2 separate regions of the Homo sapiens genome follow, and region 1 is linked to region 2. The links come from fine-mapping of genetic effects on gene expression. Tissue or cell type: esophagus muscle. Region 2 holds a variant in brackets; the other region holds the start of a gene. All regions are shown on one strand. Distances are from middle to middle.

What was found. PIP is the estimated chance that this variant, and not a neighbour inherited with it, causes the effect.
Region 1: it holds the start of GINM1, and the variant in region 2 is fine-mapped to the expression of GINM1 in esophagus muscle (GTEx, PIP 0.96).

The regions. Positions count from the first base shown.
Region 1 is chr6:149,564,847-149,567,467 of GRCh38, reverse strand. It overlaps GINM1 (glycosylated integral membrane protein 1), which reads right to left and starts at 1,093. Exons shown (of 8, transcript NM_138785.5): 1 at 934-1,093. The coding sequence starts at 1,053. RefSeq lists enhancers at 497-546, 1,797-1,926 and a silencer at 817-1,366.
Region 2 is chr6:149,589,779-149,592,538 of GRCh38, reverse strand. GINM1 (glycosylated integral membrane protein 1) reads right to left here. Exons shown (of 8, transcript NM_138785.5): 8 at 791-1,812. The coding sequence ends at 1,701. Among named protein-coding and RNA genes, the nearest start is that of GINM1, 25 kb to the right of the region's middle. The variant A/G (reference allele first, on the strand shown) is at 1,433.

The sequences.
Region 1 (2,621 bases), 25 kb after region 2:
GGTTTCACCTTGTTGGTCAAAGTGACACTTACCGTGCCCTTCGCCTTTGTATTTAGAGTGTTCATATTCAAGTCTTGACTAGGAAGAGGTGTACCGACATAGTTTCTTGTCATTCTCAGAACACTTGCTCTTTAAAATATTCAAACTTTTCCCTACCATTCTACTGAAAAAAGGCTGATACTGGCCTAGGTAGGCACGACTCTACGGCAGGAATGGTGAGCATCAGCCACGTTTTAATGTTAGGATGCCTCGATTCTCCCACCTCAGCTGGCATCAGAAGCACCTGCAGGACTCTCCAACCCGGACTGCTGGGCCCCGCCCCCAGAGGCCGGGCTGAGTCCCCAGGGGATGCGGACACCGCCGATCGCGCCCCGCCGTGAGAACTTCTCCTCCAACATCCGACAAAAACATTACGTCGCGCGAGGGCCAGGTCTCTCCCTCTGCCCACCTGAGCCCGGCGGAGCCCCGCAGCCTCGGAACGGCGGACCCTCGCGATCGCAGGCCGAGCAGGCACAAGTGGCCTGGAAATGCGCGAAGTGGGCAACTTCCACACTTCCCGAGCACACAAACATTCCTTGCCCAAGCGCTGGCTCTACCCCGGGAAGGCGCCATTACGAAGGCCTGATCACCGGCAACCGCGCGCTTCGACGGCAAAGCCCCGTCAGGTCGCGCGCCGGCTTGGGCCGCCGGAGAGTCGGTGTGGAGTGGCTCGAGGCTCACTCACAGCGACGCAGCCCCAGTGGGTCCCTTTCCTCTTACCTCGGCCTCCCACGCCGCCCCCATTTCCTGGGGTGCTTCTCCCCACACCTCCTTCGGGGGCCCGGACCCCCGCCCCTGCCCGCCGGTGGGATGTGGGAAGCGTCACTGTGGACAGCCCGGGCCTCCCGGAGAGTCGGAGTCGTAAAGCGGCCAGCCAGGCCCGCCCTGCCCTACCTGTGGGGCTCCGGACAGCGGCGGCGGCTCGGGGGCGCCCGTCGTCAGCCAGCCGGAGGCGGGTAGCGCCACGAACAGCAGGAGCCGGAGGGCGAGCGACCCCGGTGGAGCGCCCTCCATCTTGGACAACCCGGGCAGAGGGCAGCCGCGGCCGGGAGGTGAGGGCGGAGCCGGCCCGCGGGCGGGACGGAGCTTCGGCGGGAGGGACGGGGAGGGGCGGGGAGAGACGGGGAGGGGCGGGACGGGCCCTCCCCTCCCCGGGCGGCCGCGGAGAGGCGCGGGGACGCTCCGAGATCCGGCTCGCCAGGGAAAGGCGTTTGCGCACGCGCAGCGCCGCGCGGCGTCGAGGGGCGGAGTGAAATCTTGGAAGGTACGGCCCCTCATTAGACCCGCCCTCAGGATTGGACAGGACTCCAACTGGAGCGATGTAAATGTCCTCGTAACCATTATTTTTAAAATTAGTATTTACACACATGCATGTGTCTGTGTGTGCACATGTACATGTACCTATACGATGAAAACAACGGTAATATTTCAGAAAACTGTTATACATTAAAAATGAAACATCGCATTTACAGGGGAAGTTTTTATTAAGTGGGTAATTCCCCACCCTTGGCTGCACGTGGGACTCTCCCGGGCAGCTTTAAAAAGTACTGGGGTCTTCCTGAACACCCCACTTTCCAGCCTGGGCTGCGGCTCGGGCCCTGGTGGTTTTTTAATTTTCTCGGGTGATTCATTGTGGGGCCAAGGTTGAGGATGCGCCATGCTTACTGTTCAGCATTCTGCCGACCCCTGGAGGCGGCGCGGGGACAGCGCTCAGCTGGAAGGAAGCCAGCGCACCTGGGCTGTCAGTGCCTTTTTGGTCAGTATCGTAACTCTAAAGTGAAAGTGTTAGACTTTTCTTCCACCTTGCAGATTTAAAAAAAAAAAAAAGTTACGGAACCCTGTAAAGCAGAGTAGCAAGAAATTCAAGCATTTTAGATTAACAGGATTGCATGTTGATTGAGAAAAACTTGGAAACTTGGCCATTCAGGCAGAATAAGAGTAATATTTAGTCTTCCTTTGAAATAAAACTTTTGACATGAAATAAAACTTTTGACATGAAAAAGGAAACAAGAATCTATTTCTCTCTTTGAGCCCCCTTTACTCCTTTGAACACCCTCCTCCCACAGGCCTGCTGACCGCCACCGCCCCCTCCCCCGGCCCCGCCCCAGAATAAATTATAAACGTTTTGGCTAAAGACTCCTTTCAACTAACTCCGGGCTTACTCTGAGATTCCCCACGCCATTGTTAAGCTACAAGTGATTTCACAGCGAAGCCCCACACACTTCTGGGTTCCATCTGCAAACTTGGCCTTTTCCTTTTTTTCCTACTGCTGGAATTAAAAATGAATTTGGAGATGGGCGTGGTCATTTGTGCCTGTACTCCCAGCTATGCAGCAAACGCAGGCAGGAGGATCGCCTGAGTCTATTAAAAAAAAAAAAAAAAAAAGGAATCTAGAAGCCGGGTGCAGTGGCTCACGCCTGTAATCCCAACACTTTAGGAGGCCGAGGCGGGTGGATCACTTGAGGTCAGGAGTTCGAGAATAGCCTGGCCAACATGGTGAAACCCCATCTCTACTAAAAATACAAAAATTATCCAGGCATACTGGCACGCACCTGTAATTCCAGCTACTAGGGAGGCTGAGG
Region 2 (2,760 bases):
GCTGGGCCTACAGGTGCCCCCCACCACGCCCGGCTAATTTTTTGTATTTTTTTTTTTTTTAGTAGAGACGAGGTTTCACCGTGTTGGCCAGGATGGTCTCGATCTCCTGACCTCGTGATCTGCCCACCTCGGCCTCCCAAAGTGCTGGGATTACAGGCATGAGCCACTGTGCCCGGCCAGTAAAAATATTTTTTAATGAAACAACAGAAAGTATCACATAGAGGGCCAGGCGCGGTGGCTCATGCCTGTAATCCCAGCACTTTGGGAGGCCAAGGCAGGCAGATCACAAGGTCAGGAGATCGAGACCATCCTGGCTAACATGGTGAAACCCCATCTCTACTAAAAATACAAAAAATTAGCCGGGCATAGTAGCGGGCGCCTGTAGTCCCAGCTACTCGGGAGGCTGAGGCAGGAGAATGGCATGAACTCGGGAGACGGAGCTTGCAGTGAGCCGAGATTGCGCCACTGCACTCCAGCCTAGGCGACAGAGCCAGACTCCATCTCAAAAAAGTATCACATAGAGATGAGTTATATGTACTCGTTCACATTGTAAAATATTAATATGTCAATATGAGTGATGGTTAAAAAAGGTAATAAAACACTTTTAGGGTAAACAGCACTATATCTAGAACCACAAGACCAAGGGCACAGTCTAATTCATGACATCAATGGACTCATTCAATTTGAGCCATGGTTTCAGCCAGTGTAAATGAAAGTATACCTACTCCTGCATCTCAGCCATTCTTACCTGGGCAAAGGTTTTATATCAGTGTAACCAAAACAGCTATACTTTTTTCCTCAAAAAAAAAAAAAAAAAGTTTATTTTAGAGTGAGAACATGTCATACTACTTTTAAATCTTGGAGCATTCAAGGTAAGTAGTCTTGGTACAGGATACAATCAAATCATGATACACTTCAGTGATTTTATACTGAGTCACATACTTAATATAAAGGCACACTGTACTGAATAAAAAAATAAGTGTTAAGTTCTTGACCTTTTAAATTAGAATTTTATAAAGTGCTTTTCATAAAGTCTTATATATTATAGTAATTAAGTGGATATAATTTCCTTAACAAAGGCACCTTGAAAAGTTATTGGCACATGAGATTTTGTCTGGTCTTTTTTTTTTCTTTTGATAATTTCAAAGTCTCTTCACATGTGTTCTCTTCCACTTTAAGTTTTCCTTAACAATTCATCATATGAATAGCCAGCCCTTTTAGAGAATAAGGTCAACTTTTTTTTTTTTGAAACAGAGTCTCGCTCTGTCACCCAGGCTGGAGTGCAGTGGCGTGATCTTGGCTCACTGCAGCCTCCGCCTCCCGGGTTCAAGCAATTCTCCTGCCTCAGCCTCCCAAGTAGCTGGGACTACAGGCGTGCACCGCCACACCCAGCTAATTTTTTTATTTTTTTTAGTAGAGACAGGGTTTCACC[A/G]TGTTGGCAGGATGGTCTTGATCTGACCTCGTGATCCGCCCGCATTGGCCTCCCAAAGTCCTGGGATTACAGGCATGAGCCACTGCACCCGGCCGAGAATAAGGTAAACTTTAACTTGGCACTGTAAAGGTCAATTTTCAGGCAGTCTTAGAGTTTAGCAATTTCTCTAGTGTATAAACTGATTCTTAACGATTTAAAGAAAATTATATTCAAGTGGCAAATTTGGAGGCAACAGGCTACTTCGGAGTCCATGATATGAGATGGCGTTTTAAATACATGTTTTATCTTCAAGGTTTTCAGCTCTTTTCTCTGGACCATCTGGATATAAGTTGATAGCTGTCACAGGTATGACGTCCACTTTATCCAACTGAAGAATTCCTCTGAAATAGAAAGTGATTAATTACTATCAAAATTAAATGTTTCCTCTGCCTGTAGTTTGATAGTGAGAAAAGGCTACTTCAAGGTTATAATATACACCTAAGGTTAGGTGCTTTTGCTACATTCTATTTAAAAATTCATAGTGGTTGTACAAACTGAGCCCAAAGTCACTTTAACCAAACTGGCTGAGAGAATAGAAAGGCATCGAGGAAGTTCATTATTTCCTATTTTAGGGAAGAATAGGGTAAGTATAGATCTCCAAGGCAGAGTTAGGTTCCTAGATACACCCAGGCTGAGCAAAAAGCCTAAGCCTAAGCCTCTCTCTAAATAATACTCACCACCACAACACAACCTTAGGTCTTTAGATAGTGTTGCTCTTTTTGTTACTTAAAATCCCTGACCAGAGAGTACGTCTTTGGATTGAATCTAGGACCCTGCATTGTAAATTCAGTGTTATTCTAATAAGAACATCAACGGGGGTTAGTTGTTTATAGAACCAAACAGATTCTAAAGTTCACAGGGGAGTAACTGCAAGAACAGCCATAAGATTTTTTTTAAAAGAACAATGGGGAGAAGACAAAGTTGTCTTAAGTAGCTCTCAAAGGTTTTATTAAAACATGATAGTAGGCCAGGTGTAGGGGCTCACACCTATAATCCCAGCACTTTGGGAGGCCAAGGCGGGCAGATCACTTGAGCCCAGGAGTTCAAGATCAGCCTGGGAAACATGGCAAAACCCCATCTCTACTAAAAATAGAAAAAATTAGCTGGGCATGGGACACATGCAGTCCCAGCTAGCTAGCTATTCAGGAGGCTGAGGTGGGAGGATCGCTTGAACCCGGGAAGTGGAGGTTGCAGTGAGCCGAGATCGTGCCACTGCACTGCCGCCTGGGTGACAAAGTTAGCCCCTGTCTCAAAAACAAAAACAAAACATGAGAGTAATTAAAACTGTG